Regions from separate parts of the Homo sapiens genome. Here region 1 is linked to region 2. The links come from fine-mapping of genetic effects on gene expression. A gene starts in region 2. The other region holds a variant in brackets. All regions are shown on one strand. Distances are between the middles of the regions.

Region 1 (11,585 bases), 48 kb before region 2:
CGCCTCCTGGGTTCAAGTGACTCTCCTGCCTGAGCCTCCTGAGTAGCTGGGATTATGGGCATGTGCCACCAAGCCTGGCTAATTTTTTTTTTTTTTTTGAGACGGAGCCTCGCTCTGTTGCCCAGGCTGGGGCGCAGTGGTGCGATCTCAACTCACTGCAACCTCCACCTCCTGGGATCACGCCATTCTCCTGCCTCAGCCTCCCGAGGAGCTGGGACTACAGGTGCCTGCCACCACACCCGCCTAATTTTTTTTATTTTTAGTAGAGACAGGGTTTCACCGTGTTAGCCAGGATGGTCTCGATCTCCTGACCTCGTGATCCGCCCTCCTTGGCCTCCCAAAGTGCTGGGATTACAGGTGCGAGCCACTGTGCCCGGCCGATTTTTGCATTTCTAATAATGCTCCTAGGTGACGCCTGTGCTGCTGGTCCAGGACTTTAGCAGCAGGGTGCTATAGCACTTGAGACAGAACTAACCCAAGTCCAAAACCTTTTCAGGTGATTACTGTACTGAGTGGCCAGATTTTGTGCTTCCCATATCAAAATGTCAGGGTTACAGAGTGGAGGTTGTTCACTTATCATGGGAATGGCAATGTTCTGGGCTATTCTGGAGATATCCAAAGTTATAAGGAAAAGATGAAGTAGCACATAGGAAGAAGGGAAAGCTCCCATTTGGACAGCTGAAGATGATTGGGAAATAATGGCAAAAACGAAGTGTTGCCTGGAATTCCCTCTTTAGTTCTAGCTGAGCCCCACCATCTTCACCGACAGTTGGTTTGTTTTTTTTTTTAGATGGAGTCTCGCTCTGTCGCCCAGGCTGGAGTGCAGTGGCACGATCTTGGCTCACTGAAACCGCCGCCTCCCAGGTTTAAGCGATTCTCCTGCCTCAGCCTCCAAGTAGCTGGGATGACAGGTGTGTGCCACCATGCCCAGCTAATTAGAGATGGGGTTTTGCCATGATGACCAGGCTGGTTTCAACCTCCTGGTCTCAAGTGATCCACCCGCCTCAGCCTCCCAAGGTGCTGGGCTTACAGGCATGAGCCACCGTACCGGACCCCTTCACAGAACTTTAACCAATAAATTTAACCCACACTAATCTCTCTCTCTCTGAAAAGTTTTAAAAGGGTACCTTATATTTATTGCTTGTTCTTGAATCATTTGTGTATATTAGTCTTATTGTTCCTACCATAGTGTTAATTTTGTGAAAGTTGGGACAATGGTTTTTTTGTTTTGTTTTTTTTTGTTTTGTTTTTTGAGACAGAGTCTCGCACTGTCGCCCAGGCTGGAGTGCAGTGGTGCGATCTCGGCTCACTGCAACCTCTCCCTCCCAGGTTCAAGCAATTCTTGTGCCTCAGCCTTCCAAGTAGCTAGGATTACAGGTGCCAGCCACCACACCTGGCTAATTTTTGTATTTTAGTACAGATAGGATTTCACTATGTTGGCCAGGCTGGTCTGAAACTCCTGAGCTCTGATCCACCTGCCTTGGCCTCCCAAAGTGCTGGCATTACAGGTGTGAGCCACCGTGCCCGGCCGGGACTATGTTTTATATGTGTGTGCCGAACACTCTGAGAAGCAGCACAGACACTCATTTAGATGGGTTTTTGGGTAGTCTAAGTCAGTGCTTCTCGAATGATCTTTGATGAAGAACCAATTTTGGCGGGGGGGAAATATGTCATTGACTGATAAAGTCTGTTGATATTGAGGCAATATCAAATTACTATAAACGTTTCTTTTTTTTTTTTTTTTTTGAGATGGAGTCTCCCTCTGTCACCCAGGCTAGAGAGCAGTGGTGAGATCTTGGTTCACTGCAACCTCTGCCTCCTGGGTTCAAGCGATTCTCCTGCCTCAGCCTCCCAAGTAGCAGGGATTATAGGCGCGTGCCACCACACTCTGCTAATTTTTGTATTTTTAGTAGAGATGGAGTTTCACCATGTTGGTCAGGCTGGTCTCCAACTCCTGACCTCGTGATCCGCCTGCCTTGGCCTCCCCAAGTGCTGGGATTACAGATGTGAGCCACCGCACCCGGCCTACTATAAACGTTTCTAAACTCCTGTCAGTTTTTGTGCTATTTCATTGTGGATCAGTTACCAACAGTTTATGGACCACCAGTGCACTGAGAAGCATTGGCTTCCAGACAGACATATTAGCATTTGAAGATAATTCTGGGCTAGAAGTAAGAAGTAGTGATGTGGGAACAGAGATCTGTTTGGTAAGAATGGAATAATACATAGCAGCAAAAAGTAGAAGGCCTCTGTAGCTCAGCCTCTCTTAGGCTTTCTGTCCTGGAGGCAAAGAAAGAGGTTTACCAAGCAGACATTTCCACTGATCCGGGAGAAAGCCTGGCAGGCCACAATCCGGTTCTTCCATTGACAGCTGTTCAGCTCCACAGCAAGCATGGTGTGTATCAGGGTCTGAGGAAATGGAAGACTTGTATGGATATTCACAATCACTTTTAGAGATACTAGAACCTTGAAGTTACATTCTGAAATGGCATCCTGCATAATTAATGTCACCAGTGGGCTTACAAGAGATGGGGCATGTTTCCATCACAGCCAACTGACTCTGGGATCATAAATTGGGGAACAAAATACAAATTTAATAACTTAAACAGAAAACTGGGACCTTCCTTTCCTGACTTTAACTGTTTTTTTTTTTTTTTTTTTTTCTGAGAAGGTTGTCCCCCAGGCTGGAGTGCAGTGGCACAATCTCGGCTCACTGCAACCTCCGCCTCTCGGGTTCAAGTGATTCTGTTGCCTCAGCCTCCCAAGTAGCTGGGATTACAGGCGCCTGCCACCACGCCCGGTTAATTTTTGTATTTTTAGTAGAGGCGGGGTTTTACCATGTTGGTGCCAGGCTGGTCTTGAATTCCTGACCTCAGGTGATCTGCCTGCCTCGGCCTCCCAAAGTGCTGGGATTACAGGCGTGAGCCACCGTGCCCGGCCTTCTGTCTTTAACTGTTTTTACCCCTAAAATGATTTTTATATGCCTCAAGCTTATGACTTTCACATTTCTATTGAAAGTAACTAAACACAAATATAGGCCTCTGCAGTTTTCAATGGTAAACTTCTAGCAGAAGCAAATTCTACATGTCAGAACTCTTCTTGCATATGCAAATAGAGACCATTTGCAACCTAATTCTCACTTTTCTCTCAGCTAACTATTGTGACTTCCCTTTGTATACACCTCTACACCCAGGTTTACTCATGCTTATTCTACGTTTACTTATGCTTGAGATTGTCAACCCAACCGGCTGCATTTTATCTAATTAATTAATTGTGTAATTAATTTTTTGAGGCAGGGTCTTGCTCTGTCGCTCAGGCTGGAGTACAGTGGTGTGATCTCAGCTCGCTGCAGCCCCAACCTGCCAGGCTCAAGTGATCCTCCCACCTCAGCCTCTTGAGTAGCTAGGATTACAGGCACATACCACCATGCCTGACTAATTTTATTTCTTTTTTTGTAGAGACAGGGTCTCACTATATTGCCCAGGCTGGTCTTGAAATCCTGGACTCAAGGGATACTCCCACCTCAGCCTCCCAAAGTGCTGGGATTACAGGCGTGAGCGACCATGCCCAGCCCAGCTGCATTTTATTTTATTTGTTTGAGACAGAGTCTTGCTCTGTCACCTAGGCTGGAGTGTAGTGGCGTGATCTCAGCTCACTGCAACCTTCACCTCCCAGGCTGAAGTGATTTTCATGCCTCAGCCTCCCGAGTAGCTGGGACTACTCAGTGTGGTACCACTGCACCTGTCTAATTTTTTTATTTTTAGTAGAGATGAGGTTTCACCCATGTTGGCCAGTCTGGTCTCGAACTCCTGACCTCAAGTGATCCACCTGCCTCGGCCTCCCGAAGTGTTGGGATTACAGGCATAAGCCACTGCCCCGGCCCCAGCTGCATTTCAGATTGCTTACATTCACTGACCTCAAAGACCTAATTGCTCCCCAAAACTGTGTCTGACCCGGTAATGGACACATACTGTCTTCTCACTCAGATAGCTCAGGAGGATATAAGACTGTTCCTCAGTGTCCTCATTCTTCTTTGTAAACAGCTGGTGGAGGATCCTCTTAATCACAGGGTAAGTAGCAGTACCTTCCAGAGCCAAGCACTGAGCTGCAGCCCAGCTATCCACACTGTTACCTGCCACAGTTGGGTGAAAAAGAGTTCAGAATGGTGATGTGTTTTCCCCCTAGAGAACAGCCTTTGGATTGATACCCAAGGCTGCTACCCCACCTGATATCTCACTTCCTTGTGCCCCACTCAGTCTAGAAATACAATTTCTTATTTAAACCATATTGAGAAGAATCATATTGGCTGGGCACGGTGGCTAACACCTGTAGTCCTCACATTTTGGGAGGCCAAGGTGGGCGGATCACCTAAGGTCAGGAGTTCAAGACCAGCCTGGCCAACATGGTAAAACCCCATCTCTACTAAAAATACAAAAATCAGCCAGGCGTGGTGGCATGCGCCTGTAATCCCAGCTACTTGGGAAGCCGAGGCAGGAGAATTGCTTGAACCCAGGAGGCGGAGGTTGCAGTGTGAGCTGAGATCCCACCATTGCACTCCAGCCTGGGCAACGAGAGTGAAACTCTGTCTCAAAAAAAAAAAAAAAAAAAAAAAAAATTTAGTCCAGCTACCACTTGGTGGCAGTGTACCTGTTTTGTTAAAGTACCTAGAAAGAGCAAATTTTCTTTTTTTCCTTTTTTTTAGAGACAGGGTCTTGCTCTGTCACCCAGGTTGGAGTACAGTGGCACCATTGTGGCTTATTGCAGCTTCAACCCCCTGGGCTCAAGCTGACTCTGATAAGCATGTATATATAGGTCTGCCTCAGCCTCCTAGGTAGCTGGGTCTACAGGAGCACACCACCGCACCTGGCTAATTTTAAAATTTTTTATAGAGATGGGGTCTTGTTATGTTGCCCAGGCTGGTTTAGAACTCCTATGCTCAGGTGATCCTGTCGCCTTGGCCTCCCAAAGTGCTGGGATTACAGGTGTGAGCGACAGTGTCTGGTCCTAATTTTCAAATGGTCTAACATAAATCTAAACCCAATACAGCAGACATTGCAGAGCATCACAGTGGAGAGGAAAGGACTGGGAAAGCTGATAGTGAGATGTCTATCCCATATTTCCAGGTCAGAAGTAACAGGGAGTTACTCACCCTTCAGAAGGGCAGTCTGCATGATGTTCCGGGCAAGGGGATTATGTGACTGTATGGCATATTGGCATATTGCTGCTGCCATCCGCACATGGGCATTCTTGTCACAAAGAGCAGCCTCTAGGGCAGGCAGTAGAACCTCCGGCAAGTCCTGGATGGTCTTGTCTGTGATCAAAAGAGCCAGGTAAGAGAGTACTAGCCCCTTTGCTTTTCTCACACACAGCTTCCTTCCTACAGCCATGTGGTGGCCAACCTCAGTCCCAGCTGCAGTTGCTTAGTGCTATGTAATATAATTACAGTTTAGCTGAGCCCTTCAGATGGGCAGGATTTTCTGCTCAAGGTGTTAAAGCTCACCTGTGTGCTGGTATGCCAATTCCCAATCCTTTATCATCTGGCCTCTAAACAGCTATATTTAAGCCGAAGAAGAATGTTTCCAGCTAGGCTACAGTGAACTACACCATTAGTTTTAGTGATTAAAAGCAACCAATTTGCCCCATGAGCCCATATATATATATATATATATATATATATATATATATATATATATATATATATATATATTTATTTATTTTATATATTTTTTGAGACGGAGTCTTGTTCTGTCACCTGGGCTGGAGTGCAGTGGTGTGATCTCAGCTCACTGCAAGCTCCGCCTCCTGGGTTCACACCATTCTCCTGCCTCAGCCTCCCGAGTAGCTGGGACTACAGGCACCCAGCTAATTTTTAGTATTCTTAGTAGAGATGGGATTTCACCGTGTTAGCCAGGATGGTCTCGATCTCCTGACCTTGTGATCCACCTGCCTCAGCCTCCCAAAGTGCTGGGATTACAGACGTGTGCCACCGCCCCCAGCTGAGCCTTTATATTTGTAAGAACAATTATATTTAGGTAGTGCTTTATAATATAGTGTTTTTACATTATCT[T/C]GTTATCTTTCAACCTTGGTTGAATTAGGCAAGGTAGGTATCATTGTAGAGCTCACTAGGGAGTCTTTTTTGGTTCAACTAAACAGTAAGGTTCATAAGACTGTCATGGGCCATGCATGGCACCAGAAGAATATGGGACAGGAGCATAGTTTGTCAACAGGGCAGCAGCATCAGGCATCCCTGTTGGCTGGAGTTTTTTTGTTTTTGTTTTTGTTTTTTTTTTGAGATAGAGTTTTTGCTCTGTTGCCCAGGCTGGAGTACAATGGCACAATCTTGGCTCACTGCAACTTCTGCTTCCTGGGTTCAGGCGATTCTTCTGCCTCAGCCTTCCGAGTATCTGGGACTACAGGCACCTGTCACCACGCCTGGCTAATTTTTGTATTTTTGGTAGAGATGAGGTTTCACCATGTTGGCCAGGCTGGTCTTGAACCCTTGACTTCAGGTGATCCACCTGCCTTGGCCTTCCAAAGTGCTGGAATTACAAGTGTGAGCCACCACACCTGGCTTTGGCTGCAGTTCTTGAGGCTGTCTTGAGCATTCCACAGAGTCTTGGGGACAGCACAGGAGCATGTTGTTTATTCACTGGGTGAATTTATGCTTTACAGGAACTAATATCTCTTATAAAAACTCCATAGACACAATTCTAGGGTCCACAAAGGGCCTGCCTGTTATAAGTTACAGTATCCAGGGAGGCCCAAACTATGGTGTCCCTATCAAGTATTTATATTTCACTTATAGCTCTTCTCAGTCCCAATGTAATTTATCAAACAGGATTTATATCATAACCAATGTTGCCTATAAAGATAGTTCTTATCAGGTGTTTAGGGGAACAGGTGGGCATTTAACTGAAGTTCAAATTCTCAAGTAGGAAGGGGAAAGGTTTGTTATCCCTTTGTCTACCACTAGTCTCATTTTATAGATAGGTAATTTGAAGCTCAGAGAGGTTAGCTGACTGCCCAAGGAGTGGCACAGCTAAGCCCGTGAATCATATTTTAAGATTTTGTCAGGTGCGGTGGCTCATGCCTGTAATCCCAGCACTTTGGGAGGCTGAGGTGGGTGGATCACTTGAGGTCAGGAGTTCAAGACCAGCCTGGCCAACATGGTGAAACCCCATCTCTACTAAAAATACAAAAAAATGAGCTGGGCATGGTGGCACACGCCTGTATGTAGTCCCAGCTACTCGGGAGACTAGGGCAGGAGAATTGCTTGAACCTGGGAGGTGGAGGTTGCAGTGAGCAGAGATCGCGCCACTGCACTCCAGCCTGGGTGACAGAGCAAGACTCTGTCTCAAAAATAAATAAATAAATAAATAAATAAATAAATAAATAAATAAATAAAATAAAATAAAAAAGAATGGGCTCTTGGCTGGGCACAGTGGCTCACGCCTGTAATCCCAGCAGTTTGGGAGGTTAAGGTGGGAGGATTACTTGAGGCCAGGAGTTCAAGACTAGCCTGGTCAACATAGCAAGACACAGTCTCTACCAAAAACAAAAACAAAAAAGAATGGGATCTTCAAGGTGGGAAATGTTAACTTCTCTGCAGGCCACTGAGCAAACAAAAGGTGATGAAATGTAGTTCAAAAATTACTGGACTAGAAGTCTGGAATTTTAATCTCGTCTCTATTGCTGATAAGCATGTATATATAGGCCAGTCTCTAAGTCTTGGTTTCCACATTTGTAAAATGATCTCAGATAAGCCCTGGGTCCCTACCAGTTCAGATGTTCCATGGCTTTATGAGTTGCTTATGTTCTCAAGCAGTTCAGCTTTGGCTCTCACCTGAGTCTCTCTGGCTGGTGGCAATCCGGGGCCGTTCCAAAGCAGCTGTGGCACATGTGGTGATAGCTTTGATCCGAACGTCATCATGCAGGTCTCCCAAGCTCTGAAGCAGGTTCTCTACTGTCTCATGGTGCCACTCTATGACTGAGCCGCAGTGAGGGAAATGAAAAGAGAACCACCTGGTTAGGGTTAGATATTGTGCTGCAGGCAGGTGACAAGAAGTCTGCCCTTCACCCAGAATAATTCAAGCAAAACATTAGCTCAGAAGAATAAAGGGCCCAGAGATGGGGTCTTTAGGGAGTTATTTCTCTGATGATCCATGTACCCTCACAAGTAAGTTCCCAGACAAAACTTCTCCCAACCCCATCGTATCTATCTCTCTTTCTTTAAATCACTTTTCGTTGTAACCATCTGGGAAATAAAAGTGACAATAAAACAAAGTAGTTAAGAGTACTTTGTTTTCAGACATACCTGGTTTGGGATCACAGTTATTAGCTGTGTGACTGTGGATAAGTTACTTAACCCTGAGCCTGAGATTTCTTATTTGTAATACAGGCATAATACTAGAACCCACATATTGAGTTATTCTTACTGTTAAATGAGTTAACTAGACAAAGTGTTTAGCAAAATGCCTGGCAAGATAATGAAGGTTCAATAAATGTTAACTATTGTGGTTTTCATTAGGTTCTTTGTCTTTGAGGGCACTTCCATTTGGCTTTCAACATCTTCCTCATTTTAGTTGCTAAATACTCTTTTGGCAGGTATCAGACTTTTATTTCAAAGCTCCTATTATCTGTAGGTGTTTCCTTCAGTCTTTTTTGTTATTGTTTATCTGATCCAGTTTACCTAATGGATTGCCTCTCTTTTTCCTGCACTAACTAAGCTTGTCTATCATGTTCTGAAAGCCAGCAGCTATTGAGTTCTCAAATACCATAGCTTTCAACAGTCCTTGCCAGGCCATTACTTTGTCCCAGGCACTCAGACTTCTACTCTCCTATCTTTGAAGGCAAAGTAGGTATAGGATAGCCCCAACTCTACGAATGAATTTTGGAGAGGGGTTGCTGATACCATAGTCAACTATGACATGGACAATGGTTGGACAGCATATTTTGTTCTTCCCTTCATACATCATTTGCTGAGCATAAAGTTTGGAAAACAATAAGATAGGGTCGCCTGGGTGCAGTGGCTTATGCTTGTAATCCCAGCACTTTGGGAGGCCAAGGCGGGGAGATCACCTGAAGTCAGGAGTTCGAGACCAGCCTGGCCAACATGGTGAAACCGTGTCTCTACTAAAAACACAAAAATTAGCCAGACATCATGGCACATGCCTATAGTCCCAGCTACTTGGGAGGCTGAGGCAGGAGAATCGCTTGAACCTGGGAGGTAGAGGTTGCAGTGAGCCCAAATCAAGTGCCATGGCACTCCGGCCTGGGCAACAGAGTGAAATTCCATCTCAGAAAAAGAAAAAAGGGCTGGCGCGGTGGCCAAGGCGGGCAGATCACCTGAGGTCAGGAGTTTGAGACCACTCTGGCCAACATGGTGAAACCCCATCTCTACCAAAGATACAAAAAGTTAACCAAGTGTGGTGGCGGGTGCCTGTAATCCTAGCTACTCAGGAGGCTGAGGCAGGAGAATTACTTGAAACCAGGAAGCAGAGGTTGCAGTAAGCTGAGATCCCACCGTTGCACTCCAGCCAAGGCAACAAGAGCGAAACTACGTCTCCAAAAAAAAAAAAAAAAAAAAAAAAAAAAATGGTCTCTGCCTCTGAAGAGTCTGCAGTGTAATAATGAGTTTCCACAAATTACTGAAGTAATACCCATCCATGCAAAAAGCACCCAGATATATGTTAACTGAAGTTCATCTAACACCCAATGTGTGAAAGGCTCTTGTCTAGCCTTAATGAGGCAACCAGATTTTTACATTTCACAAAGGAGGGATGGATTTTTCAAAGACTGAGAAAGCCTAGTCCCAGATGAGAACCACTTCTCACAAACGTACAGTATCACAGGACCTCCCTTCACTCACTCAGAGCCCAGGCAGTCTTCCATTCCTTCAGCATCCTCCGCAGGACCACCAGTTCCCAGGTCACATCCTCCTGCAGTGATTTTGCCTGCTTCTTCAATCTCCTGGTCTTAATAGGCACATCCTTCTCACCCACCTGCAGCAGCATATCCTTGGCGGGGGTGGGCAAAGCAGTCCAGCGCAGGGCTCCTTGCACAGGTCTGTAAGCTGTGCAACGTGGCAGTGTGAGGTCTTTTCACCCCACTGCCTTAGGCCCTGCCACACAGTGGCCCCAGCTTGCATCCCATTCCTATTCCTGACTAATACCAAAGCAAAACAAAACCCTCAAGAGTGAATTTCCCCATGATTATATGGGGAACTGAGTACATGTACACAGGGAATTATGGAAAGTCCTGACTAGACATGGTAAGCCATGATGATGATGGGGGTGAGAGATTTGTGGGGGGAAATTGAGATATCTACAAACCTTTCTATAAGTTTAAAGGTTATCTTTAGGAACCTAAATCTTTAGGAACATAAATATGTTTATATGTAACGAGATTTGCTCATAATATTTGATACGTTGCAATTTAGTGTCATTGGCCATTATTTCTAAAGTATTAAGTTTTCCTTTTAATGTTTTTAATTTGGGGAGAATAATAGTGCTATAAGCTGTGAAATTTTAAAGATTTTAACATCTCTGAGTTTTTCCTCAAGACAACAGAAATTTGAGAACAGAAGAAGCCGTAAATATTAGATATAGTTAGAAAAGCTATAGTTGGCCGGGTACGGTGGCTTTTGCCTGTAATCCCAGTACTTTGGGAGGCCGAGGCGAGCAGATCACGAGGTCAGGAGATCGAGACCATCCTGGCTAACACGGTGAAAACCCCGTCTCTACTAAAATACAAAAAATTGGCCGGGCATGGTGGCATGTGCTTGTAGTCTCAGCTACTTGAGAGGCTGAGGCAGGAGAATCACTTGAACCTGAGAGGCGGAGGTTGCAGTGAGCTGAGATTGCACCACTGCATTCCAGCCTGGACGACAGAGTGAGACTCCGTTCTCAAAAAAAAAAAACAAAAAAAAAACTATAGTTATATTTTCTGAACTTAATGTTTTTCATGGTGTCAAATTTAGAAAGCCTCTTTCTCAGAAAAAAAGCTCTATGGAGAAGGGGAAGGGAAAAATGATAAAAACATTTCCAGATGTACTAAATTCATTATTCACACTGCCTATTAGTCTCATGTTCTAATCAGTCACTATCAGCCATTTCTGTTTTTTTCCAAGATTTCATTCTGACTCTTAACACCTTTAGATTTGCTCTGAATCAATTCTTTCCTTTGAGCAAGGAAGACATAACATTTCTTTCTTCTAATGTAAAAAGAGTCCTGTGAGGCGGGGTGCAGTGGCTCATGCCTGTAATCCCAGCACTTTGGGAGGCCAAAGCGGGTGGATCACTTGAGGTCACAAGTTCGAGACCAGCCTGACCAACATGGTGAAACCCTGTCTCTACTAAAAATACAAAAATTTGCTAGGCGTGGTGGTGGGCGCCTGTAATCCCAGCTACTCGGGATGCTGAAGCAGAAGAATCACTTGAACTGGGGAGGCGGAGGTTGTAGTGAGCTGAGATCGCGCTCCAACCTGGGTGACAAAGCGAGACTCCATCTCAAAAAAAAAAAAAAAAAAAAAAAAAAAGAGTCCTGTGAGACTCCAGGGCAGTTTAGCAAAGATGCCCATACAATGC
Region 2 (10,428 bases):
TCCAGTGTCCCCCACTTCCTGATCCCACAACACCTTGGGCCCTCCAGATAACCCGCTGCTCCAGCCTGGCAGTTTGTCAACCCCCTCACCCAGACCCCCAACACCTCATGCCTGTCTTATGCCATGAGTCTGAGGCCCCTGACCCCTACACCTCTTGGGTGCCACCCAGGCCTGTCTGTGTGGGCAGCTCCCCCACCAGCTCCCTTCCATCCCCCATGGGTCCTATCCAGGGTTTCCCCGACCCAAGCACACACTATTCGGCATTCCTGACTCCCACTGTTCCTGGCTCACGGCCTGGCCACCTTGTCTCGCTCATCTGCCATAGCCCCTGCCTGGCCCAGCAGGACAGGCCTAGGTCAGGGCAAGGACAGGTCAGCACCAGGGCTGGTGCCCCACCCCGAAGGACACAAGCCTCCTGCTCAGGACACTTTCTGGGGTCCTGTGCCTCCCCTTCTTCTCCCCCAGGTGCCAAGTCCCCACTTTTTAATACTATCGCATTGAGGCTGGGCATGGTGGCTCACACCTGTAATCCCAGCACTTTGGGAGGCTGAGGTGGGCGGATTACCTGGGCTCAGGAGTTCAAGACCAGCCTGGGCAACATGGTGAGACCCCATCTCTACTAAAAATCCAAAAAATAATTAGCTGGGCTTGGTAGCACTCGCCTGTAATCCCAGCTACGGGGGAGGCTGAGGCAGGAGAATCACTTGGAACCCAGAAGGTAGAGGTCCAGTGAGCCGGGATCGCGCCACTGCACTCCAGCCTAGGCAACTGAACAGGACTAGATCTCCAAAAAAAATTAAAATAAAAAAGTATTATCACATTGGGTATTAGGTTTGTTAAATAAAAATTATTGCTGTGGAGGATACACTTGAAGGGAATGAAAAAAAGTATAGGAGACTATTGTTTTGCTTTTTTTTTGTTTTGTTTTTGAGATAGAGTCTTGCTCTGTCCCCCAGGCTGGAGTGCAGCAGCGCAATCTTGGCACACTGCAACCTCTGCCTCCCAGGTTCAAGCAATTCTTGTGCCTCAGCCTCCCTAGTAGCTGGGATTACAGGCATGCACTAGCATGCCCCGCTAAGGCCATTGTTTTGGACTAGGCTCTAGCACTAGGCCCCAATAGACAAGACTAAAAACCAAAATGGCGTCACCTGTGCTAAAGTTTCACCCAACCTAAACTGAAGTGTTACCTGGCCTTCTGAGAAATCAGGAGAGAAATAACAGCCAATTTCCCAAACATGCCAGTTTTGATCTTTAATTATCATGACAATGAGGTTCCCCTCTGCTTTAATCTGTACACAAAAGAATTAGCCAGCTGGGCATGGTGGCTTACTCATGTAATCACGGCACTTCGGGAGCCCAAGGCAGGCAGATCACTAGAGACCAGGAGTTGGAGACCAGCCTGCCCAACATGGTAAAACCCTGTTTCTATGAAAAATAAAAAAAATTAGCAGGCATGGTGGTGGGGGCCTGTAATCCCAGCTACTCAGGAGACAGAGGCAGGAGAAGCGCTTGAACCAGAGAGGCAGTGGTTGCAGTGAGCCGAGATATTGGATTAGGCAGTCAAAAAAACCAAGCAAGCATAAAAGGTCAATAAGTTGTAATCTTGATAGTAAAAGTGGAAAACTTATTATAAATGGAAAGAAAGTTTTGATTTCCTTTTTTGTTTGATGGGCAGTATGCCATATTATACCCAAAGTTCGTTTAAAAAATATTTCCATCAACTATTTTTATTTGAAATAAATATTTGAGGTAAGTTACCAAGGCAGCTTTTTTCCTCAAAAGTAACCTGTTCCTCTTTGGAATAGCACATTTTAGGGGCATGGTTAATACCTGAGATTTTTACTCAGTAAATCCTGATGGTTACTATGTGTAAAATATCTTTAAGTAGGATTGAAGGCCTCTGTGGGGAATAAAATATTACCAAAGTCTATAAAAATAAATTTTACATGTTCTCCTTTATGACAGAGAGCAGCACTGGTTCTGCTACTTTTAAAATGAATAATTGATTTCTTGATAGGTGTTTGATATTTCTTCCCTCACTGCTGATTCTTAGATAGAAACCATTCTTTATATTTGATAGACTGTTTTCAGAAAACCCTTATCAACAAGTGTACAATACTTATCTGAAACTATACGTTTAGAATGGAGCAGTTTAATACTAGATCTCAGAAATTTGAAAAATAGCAAAGAAGACTGGATTTGGAAAGCATGGTCTACAATTGCTTGTCAAATTCTGAAGCTATGAAGAATAAATGTTTCAACTTTGGATTATGAAACCCCATTTATGATTTTTTAAATAAACTTGAAATAAAAATGATTAAACTAAAAAAAAAGAATGTAGAGGGAGAGATCAATGTAAAAATTTATTTAAAGAAATAGTAACAGAGAACTTTCTAAAACTAGAGAAAGATATGAATATACAGGTATAAGAAGGTCATAAAACACCAAGCCAACTCAGCCTCAATAAGACTACCTCAAGGCATATAATAATCAAACTCTCAAAGGTCAAGGCTAAAAAAGGATCCTAAAAGCAGCAAGAGAAAAGAAGGACATATTAATAACATCATAAAGGAGCTCCAATATGGCTGGTAGCAGACTTCTCAGCAGAAACTTTACAAGCAGAGAGTGGGGTGACAAAGTGCTGAAGCAAAAAAACTTCCAATCTAGAATATTATATTCAGCAAAAACAGCCTTCAAACATGAAAGAGAAATAAGGATATTCTTAGTTAAAAAAAAAAAAGTGAGAGATTTTGACATCAGACCTGTCTTATAAGATTCTTGTTAAGAGGAGTTCCTCACTGGTTGAGTATGAATGGTCAAATGAAAAGAACATTAATATTCTCCTGCCTTGCATATTCTTCTAAAACATTTTACATTCCTAACACATCAGTGTGTCCACATCTTGCTTCTAAGGCAGGGGGCAATTTGATCCTAAACAGTTGAAAAATGGGATGAGGACTCATTTCATCCCCAGATGACTACCTATAAGGAGTGATTGGCTAGGTGGGTGGCTCACGCCTGTAATCCCAGCACTTTGGGAGGCTGAGGCGGGTGGATCACCCAAGGTCAGGAGTTCGAGACCAGCCAGCCTGATCAACATGGAGAAACCCCATCTCTACTAAAAATACAAAATTAGCCAGGCATGGTGGCACACACCTGTAATCCCAGCTACTTGGGAGGCTGAGGCAGGAGAGTTGCTTGAACCTGACAAGCAGAGGTTGCAGCGAGCCGAGATCGTGCCACCGCACTCCAGCCTGGATAACAAGAGCAAAACTCTATCTCAAAAAAAAAGGAGTGATTTAGGGTGTCCGCAGATAAATGCCCTTTAGCCTTTGACATAAAGAATCTTTAGTTACAATGCAAACATCCCAGAAAGAATACCATATTACCATTATCAATTATTAGAAATTCTTAAGGAGGCTGGGTGCGGTGGCTCACGCCTGTAATCCCAACACTTTGGGAGGCTGAGGCAGGCAGATCACCAGAGGTCAGCAGTTCAAGAGCAGCATGGCCAACATGGCGAAACCCCATCTCTACTAAAAATACAAAAAATTAGCCAGGCATGGTGGCAGGCACCCGTAATCCCAGCTACTCAGGAGGCTGAGGCAGGAGAATCGCTTGAACCCAGGAGGCGGAGGTTGCAGTGAGCCAAGATCACACCAGTGCACTCCAGGCTGGGTGACAAGAGTGAAACTTCTTCTCAAAAAAAAAAAACAAAAAAAACTTAAGGAATAGTTATTATCATCCGATATGATGGCTTATTAAGAAGGAAGGGAACACATGATAGGTCTGTTTTGAAAAGGAATGGGGACAGAACAAAATGTTACACAAGGTCTGATCAAAAGAGGCTTGTTCTGGCTTGTCTTTGTCTGTCTTGGAGTCACGGGACAGGTGTAAGGCCAAATTGTGCACTTCCCAGTCATGTTACCTTGGGCAAATAATTTGAAATCTGTAGTTTCCCAATCTGAAAATTGAGTCTGATACCTGTTCTAATTTAGTGTTGATTGATATGAACCTCAAAATTAGAAACGTATGAAAGTTCTTTGCAAACTAAAATATATGTGTGAGGAATTGTTATTATTAGTTTAGAGGATGGACTGTTGTCCTTAGAAGGCAAGTCTCTGGGTCCTACAGTTAGATGCACTGGGCGCTTCGGGAAGAATTTAGGGCTATGGGGTACTCAGCAATTAAAAGAGAGGGTGCTTAGAGAAGAAAGAAAGGACTTATTAATGGAGTTTGGAGGCTCCTTATTATCGAAACTTACACATTACGTGACCAGCATTATGAGGCAGCACCCCACTCCCAACAAATAGCCCTCTAGAACCAAAAGCAGAGTGGCAGGTCCGGGGTCCTTTTGTACATAGACAGCATAAAAAATTGACTAAGTCAATCCTGGCATAACTGCAGACCAGGCCCTGGAATGAGCAACCCACCAGCATTATCTGCATTTCTAGGAACTTGGGCTAGAAGGGGAGGAATGGGGTTGGAAGGGTTAGGCCACATGCCTCTAGTTAAAACCTGATGAACTTCCTAGATCCCCAGCTGGAAAACGTAGGAGTTGGACTAAATTCCTCTCCTGCCTCTAATATTTTATGAATACAGAACTCAACTCAAACTGGGTAGTATCTCAGAGATTCCAAATTTAGTTCCACTTTTCTGTTTGCTTATCAGTCGCTTACCCTCACCCTCTGGTCTGATACCTTTATCCTGTACAAGTGGTCAAAGTAGGTTGAGTAACATGTGCTAAAAGGAGTAATATCTTGCATTCTCCCTTGTTATTAAAATAGAGGAAACTGCCTTGAAAGAAAAGACTAAAAAGCAATAAGCCTTAGTATCAGTATCTTCTGAAAGCTTTAAAAAAATAATACTCTCATCTCTACCAACAGATTTGGATTCTGAAGTTCTGAGGTGGAGTCCAAGAGTGTGCAGTCAGCTTCTGGGGTGGTGTTTGTTAGATACAGTTTTTTGTTTATTTATTTATGTTTGAGACAGGGCCTCACTCTGTCACCCAAGCTGGAGTGCGGTGGCACAGTCATGGCTCACTGCAGCCTTGCCTCCCAGGCTCAAGCAATCCTCCTGCCTCAGCGTCCCCAGTAGCTGGGACCACAGGTGTGCACCACCATGCCTGGCTAATGTTTTAAAACTTTTTTTTGTAGAGACAGGGTCTTACTATGTTGTCCAGGCTGGTTTCAAACTCCTGGAATCAAGTGATCTTCCTGCCTTGGCCTCCAGAAATGCTGGGACTATGCCTGGAATAGATATGGGTAAAGAACCTTTTACATCAGACTCTTGTGTCCTACTCCCAGAATGCTGATTCAGTAGCCTGCAAGTGAGGCCTAGAAATCTGCATTTTCACAAGCTCTCAGGTTTAATACACAATACATTTAAAGAAAGCACAGCCCAAAGGGTGTCAGTGGGGTGTATGAAGGAAGCCTGGTTAGTGGGGAGAGTGGGATTAGGGAACAGCTGCTTAACCTGGCTTGTTTCAAGTCCCCCTTTCTCCCTTTTTGCCCTCAAAAAGTTCCCCTCATTTTTTCCCCTCTACTTTCTAATTTTTTACCATGCACTCACACAGCTATACAGCTATCTCCAGAGATTACTCTGGAAACTCTGCTATAAAGATGACCTGGTCTAATGCCTTGATTTGTTTTTTTTTTTTTGAGACAGGGTCTCACTCTCCTGGAGTACAGTGGCGTGATCATGACTCACTGCAGCCTTGACCTCCTGGGCTCAAGCAATCCTCCCACATAGCTGGGAGCATAGGCACATAGCACACCACTCTCGGTTAAATTTTTTTTTTTTTTTTTTTTTTTGTAGAGATAGAGTCTCACTATGTTGCTCAGGCTGGTCTTGAACTCCTGGACTCAAACAGTCCTCCCACCTTGGCCTCCCAAAATGCTGGGAATACAGGCATGAGCCACTGCACCAGGCCTAATGTCCTGATTTTATAAATCCCAAAACTGGGGCCCAGAGAGAAGAGAAATCATTAAGATCACCATACTGCTTGGTATCTAAAGTAGTACTGACCCTTTTGACACCTAATCCAAAGTTTTTTCAGCTACCTCAGGTTGCCCCTCATCTTCCAGCTGACACCATCCAGCACCTTTCAGATACTGGCAAAGGAGCAGTGTTTCAAAATTACTTTCCAAATGGCCTCCTAAAAGGCAGTCCTCAGAGAGAAGCAAGGTTCTGCATCTTAAGCCTTCCTTGGTTTCTTAGGTTCCAAAGCTGTTTCTATCAGTCTCCAAGCAACCAACTCTTTAGAATTCCATGAGTCTACTCAGAGAACTTGTGGGTTCAGTCGGGGGTATATCTTCAACCATTTATTAAATTTCCTTCTTTGTAAACTGAGCTTTGAGAAATTGCATCTTATTTATTGATTATTTATTGAATGGTAGTTTCATGGAGTTTTTGGTCTTTTTTCTTTTTTGAGACAGTCTCACTCAGTTGCCTAGGCTGGAGTGCAGTGGTGCGATCTCGGCTCACTGCAACCTGTGCCTCCCAGGTTCAAGCAATTCTCCTGTCTCAGCCTCCCATTACAGGCCACACCACCATGCCCCACTAATTGTACTTTTAGTAGAGATGGGGTTTCACCATGTTGGACAGGCTGTTCTCAAACTCCTGACCTCAAGTGATGTGTCCGCCTTGGCCTCCCAAAGTGCTGGGATTTGCAACTGTGAGCCACCACACCTAGCCTCTTGGTCATTCTTTGAAAAATAAACCTCAGCCAGGCGCGATGGCTCACGCCTGCAATTTCAGCGCTTTGGGAGGCTGAGGTGGCGGATCACCTGAGGTCAGGAGTTAGAGACCAGCCTGACCAACATGGTGAAACCCCATCTCTACTAAAAATAGAAAATTTAAAAAGAAAATCACCTGGGCCTGGTGGCGCATGCCTGTAATCCCAGCTACTCGGGAGGCTGAGGCAGGAGAATCGCTTGGACCCAGGAAGCAGAGGTTGCAGTGAGCCAAGATCAGGCCATTGCACTCCAGCCTGGGCAGCAAGAGTGAAGTGCAGTCTCAAAAGATAAAAATAAAAAAACCCTCTAGATATATGCAGCTCCATATTCTCCCACCACAAGGGTTTATAAATCCTGAGAAAGAGGCAAAGCAGGGAACACATGACCACATAGTTCTGGCAGGCGTCAGATTACCAGGCTGATAAAACAGATGGTAAAGTAGAAGCTGTCCGTCGACTTTTCCATTCCCCTTTCAGCTCCTCCACTGCTACTTAATCTCCTTTGCCCACACAGTTCAATCCCATTTTCCCTGATCTCTAAATCCTGGCTAGATTATTAGCCATTAACACTAGCTTTTACAAGGAGACTCTTCAATCTTGTATTTCTAATAGTATAATTTCACACGTACAGAAATTCTTTAAGTCATAGAAGTCTTACAGATACAGAAATTCTGATCTTCAAGAGTCCCTTTGTGAAACAAACTAATTTATCCTGACAGCAGGAAAGATTTCTGGGCCTAAGGCTCTGTCTCGTTGACCCAGGTCATGCTATTCAGGTGGTCCATCTCTTGGTTCCAAGCAAGACTGCTGCTGCTGACCAACCTGAATATGGACTTTAGCACTTGAGCTCAAGCTGCACTCAGATGGTTAGACCCCCATAAAAAGCAGAGGGTACGTTTTCTGTTATGAAAAGTAAAGACTGAGCCAGGCGCTGTGGCTCACGCCCATAATCCCAGCACTTTGGGAGGCAAGTTGGGCGGATCACGAGGTCAGGAGATTTAAACCATCCTGGGTAACACGGTGAAACCCCATCTCTACTAAAAATACAAAAAAATTAGCCAGGCGTGGTGGCAGGCGCCTGTAGTCCCAGCTACTTGGAGGCTGAGGCAGGAGAATGGCATGAACCCGGGAGGCGGAGCTTGCAGTGAGCCGAGATTGGGCCACTGCACTCCAGCCTGGGCGACAGAGCAAGACTCCATCTCAAAAAAAAAAAAAAAGAAAATTAAATACTAAAAAAATTAAACATTATAACCCTGCTAAGGCAGGAGGATCATTTGAGCCCAGGAGTTTGAGGCTGCAGTGAGCTATGATGGCACTACTGCACCCCAGCCTCAGTGACAGAGGGAGACCCTGTTTCTAATAAATCAAAACCCTGTTGAAGGTTCCTCAAAAAATTAAATATAGAATTACTATGTGATCCAGCAATTCTACTTCTGGGTACATATCCAAAAGAATTGAAAGCAGGGACTTTAACAGATATTTGTATACCCATGTTCATAGCAGCATACTCACAATAGCCAAACGGTGGAAAGAACCCAAATGTCCATCAGTGAATGAATGGATAAACAAAATGTGGAAGATACATACAACAGAATGTTATTCAGCCTTAAAAAGGAATGAAATGGGCTGGGCGTGGTGGCTCAGGCCTGTAATCCCAGCACTTTGGGAGGCCGAGGAGGGTGGATCACCTGAGGTCAAAAGTTCAAGACCAGCCTGGTCAACATGGTGAAACTCCATCTCTACTAAAAATACAAAAATTAGCCAGGCGTAGTGGCAGGCGCCTGTAATCCCAGCTACTCAGGAGACCGAGGCAGGAGAATCTCTTGAACCCAGGAGGCAGAGGTTGCAGTGAGCCAAGATCTCGCCATTGTGGTCCAGCCCGGGCGACAGAGCGAGAGTTTATCTCAAAAAAAAAGAAAGAAAAAAAAAGAAAAAGGAATGAAATGGGCCAGGTGCAGTGGCTCACGCCTATAATCCCAGCACTTTGGGAGCCTGAGGCGGACAGATTACTCAAGGTCAGGAGTTCGAGACCAGCTTGGCCAACACAGTAAACCCCGTCTCTACTAAAAATACAAAAATTAGCTGGGCATGGTGGCACACACCTGTAGTCCCAGCTACTGGGGAGGCTGAGGCAGGAAATCACTTGAACCCAGGAGGTTGCAGTGAGCCAAGCAAGATTGCACCACTCCACCCCAGCCGGGCAACAAGAGTGAAACTCTGTCTCAAAAAAAATGAATGAAATGGCTGTGTGAGGTGGCTCATGCCTATGATCCCAGCACTTTGGGAGGCCGAGGTAGGAAGATTGCTTGAATGTAGAAGTTCAAGACCAGACTGGGCAACAAAGTGAGACCCCCATCTCTACAAAAAACTTAAAAAGTATCCAGGTGAGGTGGCACGTGCTTGTCGTCCCAGCTACTGGGGAGACTGAGATGGGAGGATTGCTTGCACCTGGGTGTTGAGACTGCAGTGAACTGTGATCTTGCCACTGCACTCCAGAGCCTGGGTGACAGAGCAAAATTCCTGGGGAGAGTGAAGTTATGATATGCTGTAAATATATGGATGAGCCTTGAAGACAATATGCTAAGCAAAATAAGCCAGAGATGAAGGGCCAAATACTGTATAATTACACTTTATGAGGTACCTAAAGTAGTCAAATTCAGAGACAGGAAGTGGAATAGTGGTTGCCAGGGGCTGGTGGCAGTGGGGAATAAGGAGTTATTGTTTAATGTTGTGGGAAGTCAAGGACCCCGAATGGAGGGACCGGCTGGAGCCGCGGCAGAGGAACATAAATTGTGAAGATTTCATCTTAATATGGACATTTATCAGTTCCCAAATAATACTTTTATAATTTCTTATGCCTGTCTTTAATATCTTAATCCTGTTATGTTCGTAAGCTGAGGATGTACATAACCTCAGGACCACTGTGATAATTGTGTTAACTGTACAAATTGATTGTAAAACATGTGTTTGAACAATACGAAATCAGTGCACCTTGAAAAAGAACAGAATAACAGCGATTTTTATGGAACAAGGGAAGACAACCATAAGGTCTGACAGCCTGCGGAGTCGGGCCAAAAGAGCCATATTTTTCTTCTTGCAGAGAGCCTACAAACGGACGTGCAAGTAGGAGAGATATCACTAAATTATTTTCCTAGTAAGGAATATTAATATTAATACCCTGGGAAAGGAATGCATTCCTGGCGGGAGGTCTATAAACGGCCGCTCTGGGAATGTCTGTCTTGTGCCGTTGAGATAAGGACTGAGATACGCCCTGGTCTCCTGCAGAACCCTCAGGCTTACTAGGGTTGGGAAAACTCCACCCTGGTAAATTTGTGGTCAGACTGGTTCTCTGCTCTCCAACCCCGTTTTCTGTTGTTTAAGATGTTTATCAAGAAAATACATGCACCGCTGAACACAACCCTTATCAGTGGTTCTGCTTTTGCCCTTTGCCTTGTGATCTTTGTTGGACCTTTGTCAGTGGTTCTGCTTTTGCCCTTTGTCCTATTCCCTCAGAAGCATGTGATCTTTGTTAGAACCTTATTAGTGGTTCTGCTTTTGCCTTTTGAAGCATACGATCTTTGTACCCACTCCCTGTTCTTACCCCCGCTCCCCTTTTGAAACCCTTAATAAAAACTTGCTGGTCTGAGACTCAGGTGGGCATCACGGTCCTACCAATATGTGATGTCACCCCC

The links. PIP is the estimated chance that this variant, and not a neighbour inherited with it, causes the effect.
Region 1: its variant is fine-mapped to the expression of HEATR4 in nasal epithelium (TOPMed, PIP 0.93).

Annotation. Positions count from the first base shown.
Region 1 is chr14:73,504,163-73,515,747 of GRCh38, forward strand. HEATR4 (HEAT repeat containing 4) reads right to left here. Exons shown (of 18, transcript NM_001220484.1): 6 at 9,869-10,072; 7 at 7,844-7,987; 8 at 5,150-5,311; 9 at 3,972-4,132; 10 at 2,305-2,409. It also overlaps a transcript of ACOT1 not described here. Among named protein-coding and RNA genes, the nearest start is that of RIOX1, 19 kb to the left of the region's middle. The variant T/C (reference allele first, on the strand shown) is at 6,068.
Region 2 is chr14:73,552,724-73,563,151 of GRCh38, forward strand. It overlaps HEATR4 (HEAT repeat containing 4), which reads right to left and starts at 6,224. Exons shown (of 18, transcript NM_001220484.1): 1 at 6,028-6,224. RefSeq lists enhancers at 1,047-1,559, 7,056-7,225.